Homo sapiens: one gene and its partners. The protein of the gene in region 2 purifies or fractionates together with the protein of the main gene of each other region. This does not show direct contact. Each region holds a gene or a part of one and is shown on either strand. Other genes may lie near its edges. The genes, in order: DLD, PDHA1, RPA3 and VDAC1.

Region 1 (6,543 bases), on a different chromosome or scaffold from region 2:
AAAAAAAAATCCCAATAACTAGCAAAAATGGTCATACCCCATCATCTACTAGAGCAATTATGTAGTATTTTACTTAGAACAGTAGAAACACTCTCCATTCCTTTTCAGCTAAACAACTAAAGATCTCACTTTGAAATTACTTTTTTTTTTTTTTTGAGACGGAGTTTCGCTCTGTCGCCAGGCTAGAATGCAGTGGCATGATCTCAGCTCACCGCCTCCTGGGTTCAAGTGATTCTGCCTCAGCCTCCTGAGTAGTTGGGATTACAGGGGCCTGCCACCACACCTGGCTAATTTTTATATTTTTAGTAGAGATGGGGTTTTACCACATTGGTCAGGTTGGTCTCAAACTCCTGACCGCAGGTGATCTGCCCGCCCCGGCCTCCCAAAGTGCTGGGATTACAGGAGTGAGCCACCGCTCCCAGCCAGTTGAAATTACTAATTTTAATCAGTTCAATGAAGTGGACAATTAATTTCACTCTTCACAAGCCACAAAAATATTGACAGCTTAGTAGATAACAGTAAGTGAACACTTAAAACTTGTTTTATTCCTAGGACTTTATTCCCCATACAGATAAATTTGCATTCTCATACTGAATGTAAACACTTAAAGATGGATTTAACTCTACAGCTAGAATTCCATATTAAATTATATTTCACTATTCCCTAACTAAAAACTTTTTTTTCCCTGAGTAAGGGATATGTTGAGATTTACATAAACAGCACTTCACATGATACCGGGATTTCAAATTTTTAAAAAGATGCAGAGTTCACTTCCAATAATGGCAAAGTAGCACACAGATATCAGACCAACCCTCCTGCTGATAGCAACTGCAAACTCTGAACAAATATATTTTAGAAAAAACTAAAGGCACTGGAAACAACTATAAACAAGTGGAAAGTAGAGGGAAGTTGGCACTTAAAAAGTGAACAGCACTGGCTCAATGTCTCATTTTTAACGGGTTCTCACTTGAGGGGGAAACAAAAGCCAAGTTTTATTGGTTAAGGATCAGAAGGCAGAATATGGGGCAACCACAACAGCTGGAACATAAAGGGGAAACCCCCAAAAAACAGGAGGCACAGAAGGGGCAGACTTCCTTCTGCCCAAACTCTGGTTGACCCCTGAACTACACACTTGCATGGGAAAGACTTCCAGCAGCATAGCTAAAGCTAAAACAACTGAGAAGAGATTTCAGCTGCTGCCACCTACAAACAAGACAGAGTGTGGAGTTGGTGTTCAGCCAAGTTAACTGCCTCCTAAGACAACAATCAATTTTCTTTAGAAGTATGTAACAGAATCCAGGGTCATTATGTCACTCATGAGCATGAGACAATCTATGCTATCTATACCAAATTTCAGAACTACTTAATCTGAATTATTCTTAAATTTAGTTACAATATGCAAAAGCCTACTTAGCATTTAGTACTTTGTTACTTAAGTTTCCTCAGGACATGGCCATTTTAAACACCACACATCCAATTTTACAACACTCTTTAAATAAACAGTCATTAACCCAGCCAAGGAAAACACAGATTAAAGACTCCCTTATGTTGTACTTCTCCAAAAGTATATATTAAACATTTAGTAGGTGTATCTAAAATAGATGAAAGGATGATGACCTTTAAAATGCCTTAATATTGTCCTATAACATGAAAATAAAGATACATTCAGGCCTAGAAAAGAAATTAGAATATACACTAGAAGTAGTCATAAAAAAAACTATGACCATCTCAACACGTACTCATGATAACCAGTAAATGAATATTTAAGACGTTTATTTCAGTATCTTCATTCCCCACTGTAATACATTTGAATGCCCACGTATTTGAGTTCCGTAAATAGACTCTCTTAATTTGGGTAACTATATAATTACCCTTCAGAGTTGCAGACAACAATGGAAGCTTTAAAACCTCTTCAACACAAATGCTACCCCTAAAATGAAAGAATTTAGAGGTTAAATAAAACAAGTGAGAGACCGTTTACTTACATCAGTTCGGTTTATAGACATTTGAATCATATCTGAATGACTGACTTGTTTCCAATGTGAAAACCAAATTAAAAATAACTTGATCACTGTGCTTCAAACACAACTGTTCACATATCAAATTCTAGCTCCAGCCATGTAAAATTCAACTTTTCTGTATCAGAGAAAAAAGCTATTTAAATTCAGGGGCATTGAATCTTTCATGAACAGCATGAAAATATGAGTTGACGGAGATATTCCAGGATGCTACAATAAGTAGCTTTTTGTCTTACACATTAGTGCACTGAAACAAAATACTAAATTTATGTAAAATATAGATATAAGAGTATTCCATTTTGTCCAAACCTATTAAATACCTTCCAAAAGTTTCATAATTCAGTCCTAGAAATTCTTGGAGCTGTGAGAATATCCTGTTCAGGAATGTGACTTCTACAAAAGCTCCCAGGAAATTTCAGAAAAAAATATATATAATCTTCTAATTCAAAAGTTGATTGATTTGCCAAATGACGCAGCAAGATTTGCTTCTCTAAAAGCTTCTGATAAGGTCTGCAAGGGAAGAAATTTAAAATTAAAATCCAAATATTTGTGGGTCAGAAGAAAATTTAGGCAACCATCAATTCTATATGTTGTTAATAATTACCGGATGTGCATGACAGACTCTAGCTATATCTTCACAGGATGCTCCATATTCCAAAGCAAGAGCAGCTTCATTTACCATTTCTCCAGCACCCTTTAAAATAACAAGCCAAGTAAATTTGCTTCCAAGGCAAAAACTACATGCTAATAGGATAGCAATTGTTGAGGGGAAGCTTTTAGATCTTAAAAACGCCTTAAATCTGTTTCTTTATCAGTTGAAGAAAAGTCAGGAAAAGCTTAATAGAAAAGGTGACACAGAAGAGCTTGGGCTCTGGAGCCAAAGGGCCTTCAATTCATATCTACCACTTACTACCTTAACCATTCATTGGTTCTTTGTGCTTCATTCAGTTTCTTCACCTCAAAAATAACAGCACCTATTTCAAAAAGCTGATGTAAAAATAACAAAATGTATACTAAAGTGACACAGCACTCAAATATTCTATTCTCATTATTGTTACATCAGATACAAGAGATATCTACAAGAAAGATACATACTTTAGGCTCAGTGGTAGGAAAGGCTTCCCTTAGGAGGTAACATTTGAGCTGAGACCTGAATAATAAGGAGCCAGCCATTCAAAGATCTGGAGGCAGAACAGTCTAAGCAGAGGGTATCTTAAGCACAAAGGCCCTAAAATGCAAATATTTGGTCTGTTGTGAAAATGAGAGAAGGCCCATGTGACATGGCATTAATGAGTAAAAGAGAGCAGAAAAAGAAGAGGTCAGAGAAGTAGGCACAAACAGATTCAGTGAGGCCTTGGATGTAACAATCTGAAGTTGAAAAGCACCACTGGAGGATTTTAAGGGGCATAATCTGGTGTATGTTTTAAAGAGAGAATCTTGGCTGCAGGACAAAGTAGATGATACAGTGGGCAAGACTGTGAGAGTGCTGCTGGTATCCTTCTAGAAATGATGCACAGAGAGCCATATTCAAAGTTTTGCTGGAAATGAGCAACCTCAGACTAACACCAGGTGGTTTATAATTAATAAACAGCAATGCTTTCTAGAAATCTTAATGGGATTTCTCTGGTTTTACAATACTCACTGGTCCAAGAATATGTGCTCCCAGTACTCTGTCTGTCGATTTCTGCCCAAGGATCTTCACCATGCCATCTGTGTCAGCATTTGTCTTAGCTCTGCTGTTAGCAGCAAATGGGAATTTCCCAACTTTGTACTCAATACCCTGTGACAGTCAGAAAAAAAGAATCTACGTAACTGCCAGAAAAGTTCTTTCCAATTTGTAAAATCATCTACCATTTGTTCAGAAAATAAATCCCAAGAAGGGAATTGTTCGCAAAGCACATAGAAGGAAAGGAAAGACCAGAAGACTGGTTAATGAACTATATCTCAGGCACGAATACAAGCAAATACAAATGTCTGTCCATCTGGTTATATTTCAAAGCCAAATATAAAAGATCTGGAATTACTAGTTTTTTAATATAGGCAACTTCTCTTCCTCTCAATTACTGCTGATAAATCTGTGAATGATCTCTTTATAATGCTAACAAGGGAAAAATATATAAGCTAAACAATATTTCACAGCTGTTAAATATATTAGCATAATGATAAAATGCTGTTTCTCAACCACCAATGTCATTGGCACAACTCACACATTGGCTTAAAACCACCCATGTTCAGACTTACCTCTTCTTTCAACTGCTCTTCTGATTTGCCAACCCAAGCAACTTCAGGGTGTGTGTAAATCACTGATGGCACACAATTGTAGTCAATGTGCACAGCACCACCAGCCATTCCTTCAACACAGATAATGCCTTCATCCTCTGCTTTGTGAGCCAGCATTGGACCAGCAACTACATCACCAATGGCATAGATACTACCACAGAAATCAAAAGAAACACAATGAATTTCTGAAATCACAGCTACTTACCTTCAGTTACATTATGGTAACAAAAGTTTCCAGTAAACAAGTCACCAAAAAATACATCAAATGCAGCTCTTCAAAAATCTATGAATTCAGCTTATCTTTGAGTAAAATTCAGTTATTTTTTATTTTACATTTTGTAAGTTTACTATTCTTCCCCAAAGCCAATACATATTTTAAGCATAAAAATCTTACTTTTCAAAATACTGTTTGAAATCAATTTTAAAATTACTGAAAATGCAGACAATTATCCAACTTACTTTGGAATTTTAGTTTGAAATCTGGTATTGACTGGAATTCTACCTCTGGGATCTAGTTCAATTCCCAGCTCTTCTAGTCCCAAATTCTTAGTAAAGGGTCGTCGGCCAATGCAAACCAAGAGTACATCACAAGTGATAACTTCAGCTTTACCACCAGAAGCAGCTTCAATACTAGATAACAAACAGTGTATAAATGTTAAATACACACCTACATAAATTGATAGGCTTAGAAATTTAAGGCCAGCAATTTCTCAAGTGTTGATGACATTTTCATTTTTGTTTTGTTTTGTTTTTGAGACAGAGTCTTGCTCTGTCGCCAGACTGGAGTACAGTGGTGCAATCTCGGCTCACTGCAACCTCCACCTCCCAGGTTCCAGAGATTCTCCTGCCTCAGCCTCCCTAGTAGCTGGGACTACAGGCACGCGCCACCACGCCCAGCTAATTTTTGTATTTTTAGTAGAGACGGGGTTTCACCATGTTGCCAGGCTGGTCTTGATCTCTTGACTTCATGATCTGCCCATCTCAGCCTCCCAAAATGCTGGGATTACAGGTGTGAGCCACCATGCCCAGCCGGCACTGATGACATTTTTAACAATATAAGTTTATTTGAATATAAACATAAGAGTCAGACAATGAAAGAGATCTATCATTAAAATCTAGAGGTCTGTTATTAAAATCTCACAAAAACCACAGTATAATAAAACAGCAGTTAAGAATACAGGTCTTTGAGTCACAGAAATCCAAATTCAACTACTGACTGCCACCCACTAGCTGTGTGACAAGTTAGTCATTAATTAGTCAATGAATTCAGCTTCTTATCTTTGAGTAAAAGTCATTAAACTATTTAAATACTATTAACTATTTAATTTAAATATTTATTTAAAAACTAATTCAATAAGTTAAATGCCATTAAAGTATTTAATCAGTAGAGTACCAGACATATAGTAAGCAATCTTTTATTATTGATTTCCCCATGTATCTGCCTAAAAATATTGATTCAATTTTACTTATTATTGGGAATTTAAATTTTTCTGAATGTACTATAAGAAGGCACAACAATGAGAATATTGGATTCTCTTTCTAGCATTAACCTAATCATAAATTTCAATGTGCTAATGCAATAATTTGATAAGCAACTGAGTTATATTAAGTAATAAAATGACCTTAAGTTAGAAAAAACCCTATATTTGCTAAACTGATTTTGAAACTTGAGTGTTTTGCTTAAAGAGACAGGGATGATACATCAAAAACAAATGATGTATACTTACGAAACATCAATTTTTCCATCTGACTTCTTGGTAGCACCAGTAACCTTTGTATTCAATTTAAATTTAAACCCCTGTTTTTGAAGGATGCGTTGAAAGTTTTTAGATATCTCCATATCAATTCCAACTCCACCTACATGACCTAAAAATTCAACTGCTGTCACATCTGCACCAAGTCTTTGCCAAACTGAACCCTGCAAATAAATTAAAAAAACCCAATAATCATAAAAGTTTCTATAGCAAATGTTTACGAAATCATCTTAATAATTTATTGTAAAACATTTTCTTCTTTCGCTAGTATGTTCCTATGAGAAGCTCCGAGGTTTAAAATTGACCCTGTGTTAAATATGTATAACTTCATACATTTATTAACTTACTCATTCAACATTTGTTGAACATCTACTACATGGTAGGCAATATTTTAGCTTCTAGGCATACATTAGTAAACAAAGCAAAAATCTCTGTTCTCAGGGATCTTATATTCTGGCAGGGGACATAGACAAATATGTAAAATTCATAAC
Region 2 (7,027 bases):
TTCCTCTTTCACATGAATGGTTCCTATGTATTTAGGAAGTTAAAGTTTTACTTTTTTTTAATTAATTTTTTTTTTTAGGCTGGAATGCAGTGGCACAGTCATAGCTCACTGTAGCCTCAGGTGTGTGCCACCATACCTGACTAATTTTTTAATATTTATTTTTGTAGAGATGAGAGTCTCATGTTGCCCAGGCTGGCTTTGAACTCCTGGCTTCAAGTGGTCCTCCCACCCTGGCCTCCCAAAGTGCTGGGGATTATAGGTGTGAGCCATCATGCCCGGCCTAGTTTTTATTTTTTAAAATTTGAGTGGGTTGTTCGTGGTCTCTGTCAGAGAGGAATCCCATTTAACAGAGAATCTTTTTATGGCTCTCCAGAGAAAATGAATGGTAAACTTATCTTTTCAACAAGCTCTCACTCAGAAATGATACACACACACTTCTGATAGGACTTTTAGCTTCTTTAACTTTGTTCCTTTCACTCATATCAGTGGTTCTTATTTTTGAGATACACAGTAATGAAGCCATGGGAGAAAGTATCTAAGTAGCTTTCTGGCAGTCCTAATCTTTGCAGGCGCAAGATTACAGGCGCATGCCACAGCACTGGGCCCCTTCTTGCTCTTTATTGTATAGCATTATCCTGCCTCATTGTTTCAACTCTAGGATTGAGAAAGAAGTTACCTTTTCTCTGTTACTGTCGCCTGGCTGGTTTGGACTCCTGCCTTCCAAAAACTGCAGTTTCTGTAGTTGTATTTGGAAATTTATTTCACAATACAATAAATTTCTGGCCCCACAAAATATTTATTAACTGCCAAGAATAACACATCTGTTTGATTGCTAAATATAACCATTGATTTGCTGTTTCACCTTCTCTCAGCTTTACTTCTTCCCAAATTCCTAAATTTCCTTCACTTTTTCTGAGATACATTAGTGGACTGTCTCTGCCTGTAAGTTAACTGAAACACTGATTCCTAGTATTTCAGTTGTTTTCCTCCAGCACTGTCATTGTCTGTGTTTGTTGGCTTTGTCCAATAATGGTCTATTGAGGGGTGAAGATATACGTAATTAGCTTTCTGCCTATTGGCTTGTACACTCCAGGGTATACTTGGCAGATCAGTCTTAACTCTTCTCACCAAGATCAGTCCAGTGCTGGATTAGGTAAGGTATGAACACATCAGATGTGCTTTTTATGGAGAAATCATGTTGGTTTACACGTCAGTGTGTGAGAATGTGGCAGAAGGGAGCTAAAATAGTATGATAATACTACTGGATAAATTTTGTGGTCTAACCTAAACCTTAGCCATTACATAGAATACTTTTGCTGTGAGCAGGTTTGCTCAGTTGTAAAACTGGAAAGGAATCATTTCTCACCCCCCGCCTCCAAGCTTTTTACCTCCAAACAGTGACAGCCACCCAAACATCAAGAGAACAGTGTTTCAGAGAACATTTCTACTGGGGCTTCAGGAGGAGCCTGTCCAAGATTTAGGCTGTTCAAATTATAAATTATAAAACAGCTGGCTCAAGCCCATTGTGTTTAAGTCAGAGAGTGCTAAGTATCTTTTCTTTTGTCTTGTCTCCCTAAAGTATTTATCTCATACTTCAATCAATTTAAAATATTTTTTCTTACAGATCCAATTTGATAGAAGAGTCAAGTTTGCCTAGAGTGGAGATTAAATCATAGTTTTATTTGAAGTATAATTTTGGCTTGCTCAAAATGAACAGTATCTGGTTATGACTAAGAATGGCATGAAAAGGCCAGACGCAGTGGCTCATGCCTGCAATCCCAGTACTTTGGGAGGCCAAGGCAGGTGGATCACCTGAGGTCAGGAGTTGGAGACCAGCCTGGCCAACATGGTGAAACCCCATCTCTACTAAAAATATAAAAATTAGCCGGGCGTGGTGGTGGGCACCTGTAATCCCAGCTACTCGGGAGACTGAGACAGGAGAAATCACTTGAACCCGGGAAGCGGAGGTTGCAGTGAGCCGAGATCGCACCACTGCACTCCAGCCTGGGTGATAAAAGCAAAACTCCGTCTCAAAACAAACAAACAAAAGAATGGCATAAACAGACACAGCTCACAGATGATCTAGTCTCTTTAGCCACTAATTTCATTATATTCTCACTATAATTTCTTTGAAAACAAAGGATGGGTTTGTTTTTTGCCCCTCTTTGCGCTGCTTGCCTTCAGATGCGGGATAATCCTGTTTCATTGGCCAAAGCATGGATTCATTTTGGAGGCCAAGGAAGATGCAAACACAGTGCACAGGGTGGAAGAGAAGCCTATGAATATGTTGGGGCTTATTAAATTTCCATAACTTCATTCTGATAACTGATTATTATACTTTCCAAAATAGCTGACAATTAAAAAGTACTGATTTGTTTGTATATTTTTGTCTTTTAAGGCAAGCAGAGTGCTGGTAGCATCCCGTAATTTTGCAAATGATGCTACATTTGAAATTAAGGTAAGAGGTGTTTTACTTTGTTAATAATTTTTTCACAGGTACACTCTGATATACAGTTTTACCTTTAGAATAGAACATTTTGATGTTCATGCTTAGTCATCATTTTCTTCTAAATGTTCCAGGATCAGAAGTTCAGAGAAGCTTCACGAAAACTAGAATTTATTATTAGCAGCTTGCTGTTGTTCTGTGGGGGGAAGGGGGAGGAGCTAGAAAATGAAAATAAAAATAAAAGCTTATTCAAAAGTTTGGAATGTAATTCAGTGAAATATTTGAATAAGAAGAGTCTTAGTTGTTTCTTTGAAGGTTCTTTCAACCTATAACTCAGTTGGCTTCTAGGGGCTTTCAGTGAAAATCATCTTAGAAAGATTTCCTTCCCCCAAGCCCCATCTCATTGCACAGTGAGGTTTATGGATTTAAGGAACAGAGGCGATATGAAGCATTACTGATGTGCTCCTTTGCAGTTTTTCAAGTTCAATATTATTTGCAATGGAGTTAGATCTTAGAGTGGTCAACAGTGTTTGCAATGTAGTATGTGGAGGATAATAACTACCTTATTCCATTTCAGAAATGTGACCTTCACCGGCTGGAAGAAGGCCCTCCTGTCACAACAGTGCTCACCAGGGAGGATGGGCTCAAATACTACAGGATGATGCAGACTGTACGCCGAATGGAGTTGAAAGCAGATCAGCTGTATAAACAGAAAATTATTCGTGGTTTCTGTCACTTGTGTGATGGTCAGGTGAGTGGTAGGTTTGTGGTGGAACTGTGTTATTTAGGTACTGAAGTATGGCTTGTACTTATTGGGCTTTACCCTGCCATATGTATCAGAAGAGTTTGAGGCTGGTAATGTAATTTTCTTTTATTTATTTATTTTTTTGAGACAGTCTCTCTCTGTCGCCCAGGTTAGAGTACAGTGGTGATCTTGGCTCACTGCAGCCTCTGGTTAGAGTACAGTGTGATCTTGGCTCACTGCAGCCTCTGTCCACTGGGCTCAAGCAATCCTCCCACCTCAGCCTCCCGAGTATGTGGGACCACAGGTGCACACCAACACACCCAGCTAATTTTTGTATTTTTTGGAGATACGGGGTTTCACTATGTTGCCCAGGCTAGTCTCAAACTTCTGGGCTCAAGTGGTCCGCCCACCTTGGCCTCCCAAGGTGCTAGGATTACAGGCGTGAGCCACTGTGCCTGGCTGAAGCCAGTATTTTAGAATTAAAAAGTAGAATGCCAAAACCTGCTATGAAGCTTAGGCTAAAGAATTCATTCACACATAACATTGCCAGTTTTCTGTACCTGTTCTTAGAGTTTTACTATTTTAAAACTTTCTGGCACTATGATCGCCTGTACTGTATATAATTTGGAGAGAAAGGATTAGTTTGTTTTTTGTTTTGTGGGCTTAGGTCAAGGGTTAGAGTCAAATACCTACAAGGGCCAGCCAGGTAGAATAAATGAGTGAAGAAGGCTAGGTATACAAAACAGAAAATGGTGACAGGGACTCATGCTGAACTGGCACCAGCATGCCCTACCCAGAGGAATGCCATGACTTGGTTCCAGCCAGTTGGTGCCATGTGGAAATCAGGGGTAATGTTTCCTGTTTTCCATGTCTAAGAGAAGGCGGAAGTCTGGATTTTCATGTGAAATTCCCCAGTGTTTTAATGTTGACATCTGATGTAGGCTTTTCTTTTAGGTCATCATACAGGAGAAAGGAAGGAAGTGGCACATGTGTGGGTTGCCAGTTTATTGCTTCTGGTTTGGGCCTTCCACTCTGTATTTTGGTGGAAAATAGCTACTTTCTCTGGTTATTAATGACAGGTTCTACTAGCCCACATATTTCACTGTGGTCTAGGAAACGTTTTTATTTAGAAACATGTATCATATTGCCTCATAGTTTCTCCTTCCTCTAACACAGGAAGCTTGCTGTGTGGGCCTGGAGGCCGGCATCAACCCCACAGACCATCTCATCACAGCCTACCGGGCTCACGGCTTTACTTTCACCCGGGGCCTTTCCGTCCGAGAAATTCTCGCAGAGCTTACAGGTTTGCTGTTGATTTACAGAAAGGGGAAATGAGTGGATTAAGTTTTTAAATATCTGTCATTAAGATGCTATTATGAGTTAATATTTGTTAAAAATTTTAAGTTTCTTTTTTTAACCCTCTCTCCTTTGGTGCTCTGGTACTTCTGTTGTGCTCTTGAGTTAACTGACCATTTGTGAAGTTCTCTGGCCCCTCAGGTAAAAGTTTAAAACAGGTTGGTGCTATAAAATCACAGTAGGTTTGGTTATCATTCAAGCATGCCAGAAGAAGTCTAGCAGTCATAGAAAGTAAGTTCGGTTGAAGCACTCCATGGTATGCAATGTAAATTCTAGAAATCTTCTTAATATTCCCCTTTTCTTTGTCCCCCGTGACTATTTGTTTGTTTTGGTGGTTTTTTTTTTTTTTTTTTTTTGAGACTGTGTCTCACTCCGTTGTCCAGGCTGGTGTGCAGTGGTGTGATCACGGCTCACTGCAACCTCCACCTCCCGGGTTCAAGTGATTCTCATGCCTCCACCTCCTGAGTAGCTGGGACTACAGGCATGCACCACCACACCTGGCTAATTTTTGTATTTTTAGTAGAGATGGGGTTTCAACATGTTGGCCAGGCTGGTCTCCAACTCCTGACCTCAGGTGATCCACCTGCCTTGGCCTCCCAAAGTGTGCTGGGGTTACAGGCGTGAGCCACCGCACCTGGCCTGTTTTGTTTTTTTGAGACAGAGTCTCGCTTTGTTGCCCAGGCTGGAGTGCAGTGGCCTGCCTCAGCCTCCCAAAATGCTAGGATTACAGGCGTGAGCCACTGTGCCCGGTCCTCCTCCTCCTCCTTTTTTTTTTTTTTTTTTGAGACAGAGTTTCACTCTTTCACCCAGGCTGGAGTGGCTGGAGTGAAGTGGTATGATTTTGGCTCACTGCAGCCTCCGCCCCCCGGGTTCAAGCAATTCTCCTGCCTCAGCCTCCTGAGTAGCTAGGATTATAGGTGCCCAACCACCACACCTGGCTAATTTCTGTATTTTTAGTAGAGACCAGGTTTCACCATGTTGGCCAGGCTGGTCTTGAACTCTTGACCTCAGGTGATCCACCCTCTTCGGCCTCCCAAAATGTTAGGATTACAGGCGTGAGCCGCCGTGCCCGGCCCTCCTTGACTCTTGAACTATGGTTGTCCCTCTATATATCCAGGGGATTGGTTCTAGGACCCTCGAGTATACAAAAATCCTCAAATACTCAAGTCCCAAAGTCAGCCTTCCATATCTTCGGGTTTGCATCCTGAGAATATTCTATTTTCAATACATGTGTGGCTGAAAAAAAATCTGTGTATAAGTGTACCTGTGCAGTTCAAACCCTGTTCAAGGATTGAATATATTTAGTGTACTAGTATAGGAGAGGTCCTAAGATGTTTGTAACTGGCCAGAAAACCCAGAAAAGTCCAGGGTATCATCTGGATGGAACATCTGAAGGAAACTAAGTGACTAGAGAGTAGGAAAAGCTGGAAAGGTTGAAGCACATGGAACTAGTGAAAGGACAAGGAGAAACATGTGTTTGCCTGGAGGGACAGGTACTTAGACGACTGAACTGGCCTCTGTGTTCTAATGGTTGAGCCTCAGAGTACATATTTGGGGTGCGGTTTGGTTTGCTTTGTAGAGTTGGTTTGTTCTGCACATGTGTATGTTCTGCCATTTCCAGGACGAAAAGGAGGTTGTGCTAAAGGGAAAGGAGGATCGATGCACATGTATGCCAAGAACTTCTACGGGGGCAATGGCATCGTGGGAGCGCAGGTAGTCAAGGACGAGGATTGTGTGCTGCTTTAGATTTGGCCCTGGACTTTGTCTTCAAAAACTTTCACAGCCCCAGACAACTTTTCCTGAAGTAGTACAGCCATGTGCTGCACAGTGACGCTTTGGTCAATGTCGCATATATGATGTTGGACCCATAAGATTATAATGGAGCTGAAAAATTCCTGTCGCCTAGTGATGTTGTAGTGGCACAACACATTACCTTTTCTACGTTTAGGTACACAAATATTTTGCCTACAGGATTCAGTAGAGTCACATGCTGTGCAGGGTTGTAGCCTAGGAGCAGTAGGCTCTACTATACAGCCTAGGTGTGCAGTGGGCTGTACCATCTAGGTTCGTGCATTACAGTATGGTGTTCACATGACAAAATCGCCTAGTGATGCAATTCTGAGAATATATCCCTGTTGTTAAGTGACGCGTGACTATTTTGGGGGCTTGGTTTGCTTTTAAAGACCTAGTGCTTCATATCCTACCGTTTGAGAGATGAGTAGATTTGGATGGTGATTTATAATGTTTCCTTTTAGGTGTCTGCTGTTTTATAAGTAAGCAGGAACCTCTAGCAGTGGAGCCATACCTTCCCCTTCCTATTTATATTTCAGTACATTAATTGCTTTATCTTGTCAACTTCATTTTGGGGTCCTTGTTCTCATCAGTTAGTGAATGATGAAGAATTAACAGCACAAAATTATATCCGGACTGTTTCTTTTCCTTTCTAATATATTAAGATTCTATTATGTGTTGTTTTTTTT
Region 3 (7,027 bases), on a different chromosome or scaffold from region 2:
AAACTAGGAATAGAAGGAAAATTCCTTAATCTAATAAACAGAAATTCAAGTTGGGAAGGACTTCGGGGAATACTCCTTAAAGGAAGCTGAATGCGGGTCCACTTCTCTGCCACATAGAACGTGGATTTACTTGATAGCTGAAGCTCCATCACTTACCTGGCCTATGAGATAACCATAAATATGGAACTAGATATTGAATGTAGAACTACAGAAAGACAGAAAGAACCTGGGGCCCTGAGTCTTAGTGCACTACCACATAAGTACTAAGTTGCACAGCTGTGGACTTCTTTCACATGTGAGAATAAGCGTTTGTGCATTAAAGATACTTTTGTTTATGCAGCTAAACCCCATCTTGACTTAAACACTATTTCTATTCAAAATGGTACTGAAGGCTCTATCCTAGGCAAAAGGTAAGAAAGATAAATAAAATATGTAAGAATTCTTAAGAAACAAAACTATAATTATTCAAATATGAATAGAAAATTCCAAAAAAAACTGATAGAAAATTCTTAAAATGGCATTTCTATATACCAAAACAATCAGTTAAAATCTTTAATTTAAAAAATGATACCATTCATAATAGCAACAAAAACAAGGTATCTAGGAATAAATCTAAGCTAAAAGTCAAAACTTTTATGTAGAAAAGTATGAGACCTTTTGGAAAGATTTTAAGAGGACCAAAATGGCTCAAGGATAGTAAGAGTTGACATTCAGGTGTTACTTTTCCTGAAATACATCCAAGGATACAGTGCAATTTTGATCAAAATTCCAACACAGTTTTTCCTGGAAATTCATAAGCTACATTCTATACAGAAGAGCAAAGAGACAAAAATAACCAAGACATTCCCGAGAACACAGCCCCAGACATCAAAAGTTATGATAAGCTACACTATTAAAGAAAATAGGTAGTGGTTCAGGGATAGAAAAATAGATCCATAGAATAGAATTGACTCCACACATATCTGTAAACTTAAGGTGACAAGTGAAGGTGGCAAAAAGGTGATACAGTCAAATCACATTAGGACAACTGAAATTAAAACAAAACAGAGATTGGAGACTTATCTGACAACATACATGAAGAGTGAATTCTAGATGACGGACTATTAAATATGAAAGGCAAAACTCTAAACATTTTAGGAAAAATAGAATACCTTTAAGAGTACGATGTATCAAAGAATTCATAAATGAGATTTTAATGGACTTTTCTCCTACATTAAACTTAAGGGGGAAAATGTTTAACTATATTAAAAGAGGTCTTCCTAATAAAAAAAAAAAAAGGATGGAATGAAGGAAGGAAACGGAAAGATAGGCCAAAAACAGACAACACTTGTACCATTACAATATCTCACTAATAAAAAGCTCTTAAAAGTCAGTAAGAAAAAGAAAAATCAAGGAAAAAAAGATAAACATAAATAACCAATAAAAATCTGAAAAAATGTTCAAACTTTTCAGTAATCAGGGAGTGCAAATTAGGGTCACGACAAAAAAACACTTCATATCCATCAAATTGGGGGAAAAAACTCCAAGAGTTGCCAAGAATATACAATAACTGTAAACTGTCTTATACTCCAGGTAAGAGAGTAAACTGGTACCACCATTTGGGGAAATCATTTTTTTACTAGTGGCAGAGATCCAAGTTACCCCAAGTTACCGGTGGCCTATCCTCACGGGTCAGTAGCAACTTCAGTCCTTGCCTCCTCAGACGAAAAAATTTGACTGAGGGGCATAAAGCAGAAACAGAGACCCAGGCAAGTTCCAGAGCAGGAATGGAAGTTTACTTTAAAAGGCCTTAAAACAGGAAGAAAGGAAGGTGTGCTTGTTAGAGACCCAAGCGGGAATGTGAAGGTTAAAGAGAGTAGGTCAAGTGTCCGATTTAACCGTTGATCCTTTTTTTTTCGTTTGTTTGTTTTTTTTTTTTTTGAGAGGGAGTCTCGCTCTGTGGCCCAGGTTGGAGTGAAGTGGCGCGATCTCGGCTCACTGCAAGCTCCGCCTCTCGGGTTCACGCCATTCTCCTGCCTCAGCCTCCCGAGTAGCTGGGACTACAGGCCCCCGCCATCGCGCCTGGATACTTTTTTGTATATTTAGTAGAGACAGGGTTTCACCATGTTGACCAGGGTGGTCTTGAACTTCTGATCTGAGGTGATCCACCCGCTTCAGCCTCCCAAAGTGCTGGGATTACAGGCGTGAGCCACCGCGCCCGGCCCTGATCCTAGGACTTTTACAAGCTTGTCTATTTCCCATGATTCTTTCCTTAGGATAGGCTGCCGGCAGGCACAGAGCCCTCCTTAGCCTTGGGAAGTGTTTTTAGGGAGTTACATGCACGCCCATCTGAGGCTTCCTTCCTTTTTCCGGTGGAGTGTACCTGGAAGATCATACTTTACCATTTTTGTCTCTTAATATGCATGCCCAGGAAGCTGTTTCTCCCTCGGGTCTACATTCAATTAACATTTTGATAACAGGTGTGGACCATCAGGAAATGGCCTCTCCCTGGCGCTGCAGAATTATCATTTTTAGAGAAGCAAATTCGGTAATTGCCAAACCATCCCCCAACATTTCTAGTGGGTTGGGGGAGAGCCCACTACTGTCCCACTCATGCCTACCTGTAACAGAAAAAAAAATATGATCTACGTACATTCGTCAACATAGATGAATCTCAAAAACAAACAAAAGAAGTCAGAAGATACATACGTTTCTGTTTATATAAAGGTCAAAGACTGGCAATATTAAACAACATACCATTTAGCAACGCCTGCATGTGTGATAAAACCACCTAGAAAAGCTTAGGAAGCTTAACACAAATTTCAAGATAGTGTTTACTTATGGCTGTAGCAAGGAGGGCTTCATTGGGGAAGTGCAAACTGGTAAAATTTACTGGTAACTGGTAAAGTTCCATTTCTTCAGCTGAATGACAGGCCCCATGGATTCATTTCATTTCTCTCAAAACTATGCAAATCGGCTAGCTATACTTTTTTCTGTACATCATGTATTTTATAATATTTTAAGTGACTCAAAAATACACGAAAAAGCTGTTTTAAATTATCTTCCTGCTCATCTCCCTGTTTTAAAAGAAAGCCTTTGCTTAAAAGTGGTCTTTCTAACTGCAGGTAAACAACGACATTAACATCTGGTACTCACAGGAGTGCTCTTTAAAAAAAAAAAAAATCACTATTACAGGGTACGCACCAAGGCTCACACCTGTAATTCCAGTACTTTGGGAGGGAGACGGGGGAGGGAGGGATCGCCTGAGCCCAGGAGTTTGAGATAAGCCTGGTCAACATGGCGAGGCCCCATCTGAACAAAAAAAAACAAACAACAAAAAAAAAATCTTTATTAGCTGGGTGTGGTGGTATGTGCTTATAGTCCCAGCTACTTGGCAGGCTGAGGTGAGAGGATCGCTTAAGCCTACGAGTTAAAGGCTGCAGTGAGCTATGTGCATGCTACTGCACTCCAGTCTGGGTGACAGAGAGAGATCTTGCCTCAAAAAAAAATGCTATTAAAGACATTGATGTGTGTACTCTCCCCTATATAATGCACATCAACTTGCTTTGCAAAACAATGCTAAAGTACAAAAGACTTAAAGCTGTAATATAAAATAGACTTTACTGACTTGCACCAATACAACCACAACTTTTTTATACACCACTGACACACATTCTACATCTGTTTAATGAAATCCTTTAAAGTACCGTTAGTGAGTAAAACTAAGACAAACCTATTAAGTGCTAAGGAAACACTAAGGGAGACTATCATTTAATTATCGTACATGAGATTCCAATCTTAAATTGCCACGTGAAGTCTCAAATCGGATCTTTTTTGCTTAAGGGAATTTGAACGATGACAATTCTGTAGCTTTGGGCCAATTCACAGACTCAGTTTCCACAACGTTATAATACCCAATTAAAACTTCTGTCCAATTTCCACCGTACCGTTTGAAGGTATTTTTATGTGCACTCATTCTAGAATACTCCTGGCAAGGCCGCCGGCTTCGGGTCACAAGATGAGCCAGGGACAGATTGGAGACTACCCCCAAATCTCCCAGGAATCGGTTATCTTCCAGACCTCCAGATCGCCCTCCAGAGTCTCGCAGTGTGGAGGGCAACGACAGAAAGACTGCTGAGGGGGTTTAAACTGTTGAGTCAAACATATGGCCAAAAGTCAGAGTCAACTGGGACCTTGCAAATCATTCCGCCTAACCCTTCGTTTTGCAGATGGGGAAAACACGCCTCAGAAGGGAGAACCCTAGCTCGGGGAACCCTAGCTCGGGGTCTAACAACGATTTAAGCTTGTCTCCCCTAGTACTGGCCAGTGGTTCTTCCCCGTTACCCATCCTTAAGTGCTTCTATTGGCTGCCAACACGGAGGGGTTAGCGGGGTGAAAGAACCGGCGCCTCCGCAGTGTGGCCAGGTTGGGCTAAAAAACGTCTTAGAAGTAATCGGATCAATCTCTCTTCTTACAGGTGGAGAAAGTGGAGAAAGTAGAGTGACGCAGCTAAGGGAGTAAATCGACCCTCAGCCAACAAGTGGCAAAAGCCTGAAGAAAGTGATCAAGATCACTGATGACCCCGCTGCCCATCTCCAAGGGGGCGGGTATCACAACCCCGACGCCACACCACGTATCATTCCGCAAAACTCCCGCGCCTCCCACGCAGAACTGGCAAGAGGGAAGGCGAGACAGCAGTGAACAGCTGGTACGCAGCACCCACAGCACCGCGGCAGCAGCTAGTGCCGACTCCCGCCTAGCTCTTTTGACTCTGTTCGCGGGAAGAATGGGGAAACAGTAAGGTTGCGGCGCCTCCCGCGAGACGAGGTACCTGAGGCTGGCCCCGCAGTCCCCCGCCGCACCAGCACCGGAGCTTCACACCCCACTTCCGGGGTCAAGTCACCGCCGGGAATCCTGTGATCGCAGAAAGGTAGTCTCAGGTTCCGCCCCTATCCAAGTCCCGCCTCCACTGCCTCTCGCCCTGTATCTGTCAACTTCCGGGACGCCGCGCGTCACTAAGCAGCCAATCTCCACTTCCGGACTCATCCAGCCCCTTCTCCACCCCTTTCAGAGACAGCGCGATTGCGATTTAGGTTTCCGCGCATTTAATTGGCGAAGCTGGAGCGCTAGTCTTCGCTGATTGGTGCCGAGAAATCTGCCCCATAGACACCCGCGGGGCGCACAGTTTCAGTCGTCCGTGGGTTTCCCGCCAGCCGCAGTCTTGGACCATAATCATGGTGGACATGATGGACTTGCCCAGGTCGCGCATCAACGCCGGCATGCTAGCTCAATTCATCGACAAGCCTGTCTGCTTCGTAGGGAGGCTGGAAAAGGTGTGCGGGTTCGCAATCATGGGCTCCCAAGTCCGTAGCTGGAGGGAGGGACCCCGCCTGGATAACGGGGGATGAAAAAGGACGGAAAGCCTCCGATCACTGCGCCCCCGACTCCTTTATTTTGCACAAGGAACTTTTTGGAAATTCTTTAGCCGTTGTAGCCCCATTTTGGCGCTCTTTTATGGCACGGAAACAAAGTGTTTTCAAATGCTGAGTTCTAAATTCCAGTGCCCGTCGCCTCCGTTCTAGCCGTGCTTACGTAAGGGAAATTATAAACACCACTCCCACATCTACCTTCAGATTTCTTAGTTTACTCAGACGTGACGGACGCAGACAAAACTAATCTGCTGGTTTCCTTCTCTTCTGAAATTACTTATTTTTGCAAACCTCGTTTCCTCGTTGTGATCGCTTCTCTGTAAAACATGCCTTGGTTGTCCGCTTTGGGTCCCGTAGTAACGAGTTATTTAACCCCAGTATTAAAGTGAAGTTCCCTCATTCTACAGGCGAGAAACAGGCCCAAAGTCTTGGAATCAGTGACCTGAAAAGCTGAGGAAAAGAAAACTATTATATAAAGACTTATTTAGTAGCTCATTTCATCCACACATCCTCTTCCTTAAATGAGTGTTGCTCTGACTTCCCAAGTAGGGAAACTGAGTAGGAGTGGTAGGTGGTTGACTAAAATGCTCAGAAACTCGGCAAATGGCAAAGCTGGCATTCAAACGCAATCTGACAGCGCTCTTTACAGCTGCTTCCCAGGAGTAGGACCCAGATATTCTAGCAACCAGTTCTCCTTTTACTTCATCATGCCTGTTTTTTAAAACATACCCTCCGTGGGATATGTACTGTCTAAATCATGAGTGCCAGCAGATTTCACTTTTAGGGTGGGCATCCTTTAATTTGTTATCAGAATAGGGTTGCCATATTTAGCAAATACAGAACCTACTTAACACTACAAAAAAAATCCTTGTTTATCTGAAATTCAGAAATTAACTGTGTGTTCCATGAACAGATTTGATAACATAAGATTATAATTTGATCCAATAAGTTGAATAAACTGAATGAATAAACTGTTCAAGAAACAGTTGATTTGTGCTCAACTAAGGATCAATGTACTCATCTTTAGTCAAACTTTGTTGTTGTTTTAGTGAGATTTTAATTATATGTTTCGTTTTTAGATTCATCCCACCGGAAAAATGTTTATTCTTTCAGATGGAGAAGGAAAAAATGGAACCATCGAGTTGATGGAACCCGTATGTTTAAGTGTTAATAAGTCTCTTATATATTATAGTTAATTCTTCATCTTGATTTGGTTTGTTGCCGATGTTTCTAATTTTTGCAATGGATTTAAAAAGGATGAGCTGGTAAAACGTCCCTGGCTGTAAAATTTAATTCTTGTACTATTCTCTCATTATATTTCCTTTTACATTTTTAACCAATGATTTTTTGGGCGTCATGATTTTTGAACATATCCCATAAATGTTGGATAACAATTCTCATTCCTTATGAAAGACCATAAAATCACATAAGAAAAATTTACGTTGCTTTTTTCTTCCTCAAGAGGTTTTTTGTTTCGTTTTTGTTTTTTTGTTTTGAGACAGGGTCTCACTCTGTTACCCCGGGTGGAATGCAGTGGCACCATCATGGCGCACTGCAGCCTTAGCCTCCCAAGATCAAGTTGCTCCCATGTCAGCCTCCCCAGTAGCTGGGACTACAGG
Region 4 (7,027 bases), on a different chromosome or scaffold from region 2:
GCTGCTGTGTCTGGGAGGCGTCTCTTCTGTGGGGTCAGGGGAGAGTCGTGGGGAAGGCTCTGGCTCCTAAGGTCCAGGGAGGTCTTAGGTGACCCACAGATATTACCACTGGACTGCTTCTCCTTCTGCTTCCCCAGCCCCCACCCCGGCTGAGTTTGTGGCCCCCCTGGGAGGCATAGCACTGAAGAGGGGTACTTGGTTCACTGATGGTTTGTTAACCCTGTCGGGTGGAGAATGTTCTGGGCCCGTTACTGTTATGTTCTGTGTCTGCCTGGGGTTACATTGCCTCAGCTTTCAATCCAGAGTTGTTCTCCTAGGAAGGTGTCAGGTAAAGGGTATTTCTTGAGGTTCTGGTGGGTGGTTTCCTGGTCTATCCCGGGGGGATGCACCTACAGGGTTAGTTTGGGAGGGAGGAACAAGTGGGGAGAGGGGAGCCCCCAGACTGGAAAGAGCCAGTGGCGGGCAGTGTAAAATGGATCTTCCCCCCTCATCTCTCTACCCTGATACTAATGTGGGCTGACCTGTCCATGGTTTCAGCCTGATCATGTGCAAGAAATAACACAGCAGCGACAAAAATAGGACAGAGTAAACAGCTCGCTGCTCTTCTGTCTGTGCTCTGACACAAAAGTGAGCTGGGATAAAATTAACAAAGCATCTGGAAAAAGTAAAGTAGGACCTGGATCACAACTTCACAATTTAAAATTGTAGAAGTTTATACTGTTTCTTTTACAACATACTCAGTGAGTCTGTGGCCTCCTGCAATGCCTTTGAAGTTAAAGCTTTGGCCAAGAATGCAACTTCCATTGATGATATGGAAGCATATCATGTCATATGACATGCCAGGAGCATGTCATATATGTGTTTATTTGTGTGAATATATATACATGTAACTTCAGATGGTATATATGCAGATGAATTTTGATAATTTAGGTATACTGTATTTTAAAACGAATGGAATGGTCCTTCTGGTTGAGACTAATGATTCTGGGGATGGAGAAGGTGCAGGAGATGAGGCTTTCTCATGCATGACCCCCTCTCCTCCTGGGCAGAGCACACCATGTACAGTCCCAGATTAGGATATTAATCCTGTGTACACAGCATATACAGCATGCCAAAGCAAAGCCTTCCAGGAATGCAGTGTGGTCCTTAGGGCAAAGACTATTTGAGTTACTCTCCTTCCTTGAACACCGAGGTGCTTAATAAATGTTTGTTGATTGACTTAGTGATATGCAGCAATCCCAAGTAGTCCTTTGATGGTTGGTTTTAAAAATAAAGTTACACTGGAGCTCAATAAATATTTGTTTAATGTATTTGGAGGATGTATTTGGGTTTTTTCCATGTGAAGAGCTGCCAAACTGGTTTGGTTTTACTGTATTCTCTATGAGAAATATGAAGTGGGTTCCCATAAAGTCCAAAAGTTTTGTGAAAAGTTGGGCCCATCCTGGCATATAGTAGGTACTCCATAAATATTTGTTGAATGAATGAAATCAGAGCCACATGGAAAATGATGTTCCCATGAAAAGCTCTGATTTCTATTCGGTACATTTAATGTCCTAGTAGCTGACATTTTGTAAGATGATATGTTTTATTGGCAACAGTCCTACAATTCAGTAAAGTCACTGGCTCATGGGAATGTGTCTTTGACAGTTTATTCATTAAGCAAATATTTCCTGACTCCTACTCTGTTCTGGGCCTGGGCTCAGTCCTGGGGATGCTGAGGAGGAGAGGTCTAAATTGTTGATCATCTGTCAACAAAGACTCATTGAGTGTCTCAAGCTCTGGCCACAAAATGAAGGACAAGACAGCAAGGGCTTCTTGGCCCATCTGGGAGGATAAGCTACCTGGTAGTCTTAGTGCTAGGTGATTTTTATTGGTTGCTAATTACATCTAATAATTGTTATTGATGGAAAGCTAATTTCCCTAATTATCAATGCATTTATTCTGGTGATTCTTTTATCATAGCAGAAGATGGCTGTGCCACCCACGTATGCCGATCTTGGCAAATCTGCCAGGGATGTCTTCACCAAGGGCTATGGTGAGTGTTGCAGAGAGGGGGTGCCTTTCAGCTCACAGACTGAGTTGGCATGTTTGAGACTTTACCGATAACTGTTTAGGAGACCTGGGTAGGTCAGCTGTTCTGAACTTTCACGTGAGGGAAAAAAGAAGCTTTCATTTGTGTGGCAATTGTAGCAACTTTGGTTGTGCACCCAGTTGGACAGGCTCCTGCATTGGTGCTGTCAAGTGGGTATTCTTGTTTTCTTTTCCAAGTGTGGAGCAGCCCTGTGGAAGCTGCTGCAGTGGAGCGCGGCTTCTATATTTAGCCTGTGCTTAGGCACATGCCCACGAGGCCCAGTAACTGTGTCTTTGCCAGCTGTCAGGTGTCTTCTTATCAGACCCTGCTGGGAGTGCAGGTGGGACCCAGGTGGGGGTGCCCATTCTGTCTGCTGCTGTTCCATGGCAGCTGAGAGCTCCCCCCACGAGCAGCAGCAGAGACTGGGTGCCCTCAGCCCCTGTGGCAGGAGTGTGCTTCTTTTTAAAAAAGCATCCTGAAGCAACCATGAGGGAGGCAGAGGTGCTGTTCTCTAGTTATTTAACCTATTGACAGTTGTCTTCTTCTTTCTTTAGGATTTGGCTTAATAAAGCTTGATTTGAAAACAAAATCTGAGAATGGATTGGTAAGTTGTCCAACCCACATGGAACATGAGTATTTATTTATTTTTATTTTATTTTATTTATTTATTTTTGAGATGGAGTTTTGCTCTTGTCGCCCAGGCTGGAGTACAATGGCGTGATCTCAGCTCACCACAACCTCCACTTCTTGGGTTCAAGCGATTCTCCTACCTCAGCCTACCGAGTAGCTGGGATTACAGGCACCCGCCACCATGCTCGGCTAATTTTGTATTTTTAATAGAGACGGGGTTTTTCCATGTTGGTCAGGCTGGTCTTGAACTCCCGACTTCAGGTGATCCGCCCACCTTGGCCTCCCAAAGTGCTGGAATTATAGGCATGAGCCACTGCGCCTGGCTTATTTTTATTTTTAAAAAAGATTTTAGATTCAGGGTGTACATGTGCAGGTTTGTTACATGGATGTATTGTGTAATGGTGAGGTTTGGGCTTCTAGTGTACCCATTACCCAAATAGTGACCATTGTATGGAACGTGGGAATTTGTTGTAGATCAACAAATAACTGTCGTGACCTGGCCCGCAAAGCCAAAAGAAGGTACTTTTTTTTTTTTATTCTGGCAGTTTTTGTGGTTTTCACATTCATTCCATTTTCTGCATGATGGGTGGTCCAGGGGAACCATGCCAGTAGGCCCCCAGTTCAGCAGCGGGTAATAGAGGAGAATGGGTCAGGTCTCAGTTTTAGTTTTCCTTGTGCTTCTTATTTTCAAATTCACCTGCATTCAACCACATAAGTGTTTTTAAAGTAATCTTAGTAGTCCCTTTGAAATTATGTGTGCAGTAATTGTTGGAAGAAAGAAGTTTTGGGTTTGAATTACCGCTGTGTCAGCTTTAGCTCAGTGCTTTTTCTCTGTACTGCCCTGGAGCCAGGATGGAAGGGAGATGCTTTCCTGTCCAGACTGAAGAGTTACAGGGAGGAAGGAAGCTGTCTGCTGACAACAAATTCCCCATAAGATTTCTTTACATAGCAGGCTCCTTTACTCCCATCTGTACTTTAAATATCTATTTGAATTGTAGAGTTAGCCTTGGCCCCCCCACATTCAGGGTCTTGCCTCTTGCAGAAAGGCAAGTATAGTGTTTAGGAGTGAAGTGAAGCCAAGTGAGTGCTATGGTGCAGGCTGTGACTCTTCTCTCTCCTTTGAAGGAATTTACAAGCTCAGGCTCAGCCAACACTGAGACCACCAAAGTGACGGGCAGTCTGGAAACCAAGTACAGATGGACTGAGTACGGCCTGACGTTTACAGAGAAATGGAATACCGACAATACACTAGGCACCGAGATTACTGTGGAAGATCAGGTAATGGCTGCTGTGAAAAGATGTGGATTTATTAATTCGCATCTGCCAGCCTGCCTTGTGACTAAATCTAGTGGCAAATTTCTTTTCTGTTCAGCTTGCACGTGGACTGAAGCTGACCTTCGATTCATCCTTCTCACCTAACACTGGGTAAGAGTTTCATCTGTTTTCTCCACAAGGATGTTCTCTGATGTTGCAGGTGGTGGAAGCCCTTTGTGACAAAATGTTTTGGGGGCTGACAGCACCTAAAATATGGTCTCCGAGACCTGGCGATTTAAGTCCTCTGGTTTTGATTTGGTCCCAGGGGTCGTATCCACATCTATGCACTAACAGACTATGCTATAATGAGCACTTCCTAATTCAGGACTGGTGTTTACCCAACAAACGATTTCTAAGTGCCACCTGTGCTTGGCCCTGTGCCCATCTGGAGATCTAAGGGTGCCCAGGCCATGATTGTTACCCGCCAAGGAGCTCACTTTCTAATAGAGGATTCAGACCAGTGTTTAGCCGTGTTTTGTAATAAGATTCTGCATTTTGTTAGTGTTCTCCTAGTTTCTGCCATGGAGGTTGCAGGATTTCTGTTCAGTAATAGCCATTTCATGTGAGTTAGGCTGCTGGTGATGTAAGTGGCTATGACCAAACGGGAGTGGGTGACATTTGGAAGCAGGGCCTAACTGGTCACTGTTGCCAGCCTCATTTCTTCAGGCATGGAAGTCCTTCTCCCAGCTTCCTGCTGCTTAGGGACACTGAGACCCTGTGGGTGTAACTGCAAGGTGGCTCCTGAGGCTGCACTTTCCCCAGGCCTTCTGGCCACAGATGTAATAGGCTTGTTAGTTCTTGACCATCACTTGGCATGATAGCATGGTAGTCTGCCTCAATTCCTGGGTGCTTTTCAAAGTGCCTAGAAGGAATTATTCCCTTTTAGAATACACCCTTGTTTTTTTCCACTCATATTGGTGGGTCTTCCAAACCTGGGGAAGATGTTTTATATAGTGATGTTAGGGTCAAGGGCATGTACTGAATTTCAGTTTTTAAAAATTGTGGGCCGGGCGTGGTGGCTCACGCCTGTAATCCCAACACTTTGGGAGGCTGAGGCAGGCAAATCACCTGAGGTCGGAAGTTTGAGACCAGCCTGACCAACGTGGAGAAACCCTGTCTCTACTAAACATAAAAATTAGCTGCGCCTGGTGGGCGCATGCCTGTAATCCCAGCTACTTGGGAGGCTGAGGCAGGAGAATCGCTTGAACCTGGGAGGCAGAGGTTGTGGTGAGCCAAGGTGGTGCCATTGCACTGCACCCTGGGCAAGAAGAGCGAAACTCCATCTCAAAAGAAAAAAAAAAAAAAGAGTCGGATGCAGTGACTCATGCCTGTGATCCCAGCACTTTGGGAGGCTGAGGTGGGTGGATTGCTTGAGGTCAGGAGTTTGAGACCAGCCTGGGCAACATGGCAAAACCCCATCTCTAATAAAAATACAAAAATTAGCCAGGCATGATGGTGCGTGCCTGTAGTCCCAGATACTTGGGATGCTGAGGCATGAGAATCGCTTGAACCCAGGAGACAGAGGTTGCAGTGAGCTGAGATCGCACCACTGCACTCCAGCCTGGGCTACAGAGAGAGACTCTGTCTCCAAAAAAAAAAAAAAATTGTGGTAAGATATACATATAAAACTTAACATCTTTAAGTGTGTAGTTAAATGGCACTATGAATTTTTCAGTTTTGCCATTCATTTTTTTTCTTTCTTCCTTTTTTCCTTTCCAACAGATATTTATTAGAGGGAGGATCTACCAAGTGCAGACCTGTGCTGGGTGTGCAGTGCACACAAGTGACTGGGCACACATGGTTCCTATCCTCTGGAGATGTCGTCTTATAGCTTGGCTATAGATGATCTGAAGAGACCATTGTTACGGGGCTGATTTACTCTCATTCCTCTTCGCTGCTGTAGTTTCTCCTGCAAGAGCACTGCCTTTTTGCAGTGCTGTGCACTCTCCCCCCAGGAACTCTGCCATGGTATCAGGGAGCGGTTATCTGGAAAGATCCTGGGATAGGATGAGAGGCTGGAGGATGTGCCCACATGCTTGAATTTGCTGCCTGGGACTTTGCCTGCTGCCCTGGGATAGCACACTTTGGAATTTGTAGGTGATTTCCTTCCCATGACCTTAGGGAGCTTTGCAGAGGTCTCCAGGCCATGCAGTATAAAACACAAAGGAAAGTTTTTTGGTTTTTTTTTTTTTTGGGTTGAGGGGGACGGAGTCTTGCTCTGTCGCCCAGGCTGGAGTGCAGTGGTGTGATCTCAGCTCACTGCAACCTCCTCCTCCCGGGTTCAAGTGATCCTTTTGCCTCAGCCTCCCAAGTAGCTGGGACTACAGACACGGGCCACCATGCCTGGCTAATTTTTGTATTTTTAGTGGAGACGGGGGTTTCACCGTATTGGCCAGGCTGGTCTTGAACTTCTGACCTCGTGATCCACCTGCCTCGGCCTCCCAAAGTGCTGGGCAGATTCATGTGTTTCTCCTGCCTCAGCCTCCCGAGTAGCCGGGATTACAGGAATGCACCACCACACCCAGCTAATTTTGTATTTTTAATAGAGACAGGGTCTCTCCATGTTGGTCAGGCTGGTCTTGAACTCCTGACCTTGGGTGATCTGCCCACCTCAGCCTCCCAAAGTGCCGGGTTTACAGGCGTGAGCCACTGCACCTGCCCCCCTTTTTTTTTTAATTTACTTTTTATTTCAAAATAATTTTATACTTAGAAAAAAATGTGGCAAAAATAGTATGCAGAGTTCTCCTGTGTTCTTCACCCAGCTCCTAATGTTAATGGTTTACGTAACTATAATGATCAGAATCAGCAAGTTAATGTTGATATCATATAGTTAATTAATCTGTTGTCACAATGACGTCTTTTTTCTGATCTGTGATCCAGTTCAGGTTCCTAAATTGCATCTAATTGTTAAGTCTTCTCTAATCTGGAATATTTTCTGACTCTGACACTTTTGAAAAAGAGTGGCCAATTATTTTGTTAAGATGTCCCTCAGTTTGGATTTGTCTGATGCTT

Evidence for each region.
Region 1: the proteins of PDHA1 (region 2) and DLD purify together in Homo sapiens (affinity purification with mass spectrometry; 6 studies listed by BioGRID and IntAct, with this or other methods). This does not show direct contact.
Region 3: the proteins of PDHA1 (region 2) and RPA3 purify together in Homo sapiens (affinity purification with mass spectrometry; 2 studies listed by BioGRID, with this or other methods). This does not show direct contact.
Region 4: the proteins of PDHA1 (region 2) and VDAC1 purify together in Homo sapiens (affinity purification with mass spectrometry; 2 studies listed by BioGRID, with this or other methods). This does not show direct contact.

The regions. Positions count from the first base shown.
Region 1 is NC_000007.14:107,915,179-107,921,721, reverse strand, and holds the end of DLD (dihydrolipoyl dehydrogenase, mitochondrial isoform 1 precursor), read right to left. Parts: intron 6,217-6,543; coding exon 6,026-6,216; intron 4,929-6,025; coding exon 4,758-4,928; intron 4,450-4,757; coding exon 4,260-4,449; intron 3,799-4,259; coding exon 3,661-3,798; intron 2,713-3,660; coding exon 2,623-2,712; intron 2,529-2,622; coding exon 2,463-2,528; 3' UTR 524-2,462; downstream 1-523. UniProt on the Homo sapiens protein: Lipoamide dehydrogenase is a component of the glycine cleavage system as well as an E3 component of three alpha-ketoacid dehydrogenase complexes (pyruvate-, alpha-ketoglutarate-, and branched-chain amino acid-dehydrogenase complex).
Region 2 is NC_000023.11:19,346,914-19,353,940, forward strand, and holds part of PDHA1 (pyruvate dehydrogenase E1 component subunit alpha, somatic form, mitochondrial isoform 1 precursor), read left to right. Parts: intron 1-2,398; coding exon 2,399-2,458; intron 2,459-3,023; coding exon 3,024-3,197; intron 3,198-4,346; coding exon of another isoform or gene 4,347-4,367; coding exon 4,368-4,494; intron 4,495-6,168; coding exon 6,169-6,260; intron 6,261-7,027. UniProt on the Homo sapiens protein: The pyruvate dehydrogenase complex catalyzes the overall conversion of pyruvate to acetyl-CoA and CO(2), and thereby links the glycolytic pathway to the tricarboxylic cycle.
Region 3 is NC_000007.14:7,638,605-7,645,631, reverse strand, and holds part of RPA3 (replication protein A 14 kDa subunit), read left to right. Parts: intron 1-4,456; 5' UTR 4,457-5,213; coding exon 5,214-5,312; intron 5,313-6,487; coding exon 6,488-6,562; intron 6,563-7,027. UniProt on the Homo sapiens protein: As part of the heterotrimeric replication protein A complex (RPA/RP-A), binds and stabilizes single-stranded DNA intermediates that form during DNA replication or upon DNA stress.
Region 4 is NC_000005.10:133,987,954-133,994,980, reverse strand, and holds part of VDAC1 (non-selective voltage-gated ion channel VDAC1), read left to right. Parts: intron 1-1,962; 5' UTR 1,963-1,968; coding exon 1,969-2,035; intron 2,036-2,625; coding exon 2,626-2,675; intron 2,676-3,826; coding exon 3,827-3,979; intron 3,980-4,073; coding exon 4,074-4,126; intron 4,127-5,737; coding exon of another isoform or gene 5,738-5,846; exon of another isoform or gene 5,847-7,027. UniProt on the Homo sapiens protein: Non-selective voltage-gated ion channel that mediates the transport of anions and cations through the mitochondrion outer membrane and plasma membrane.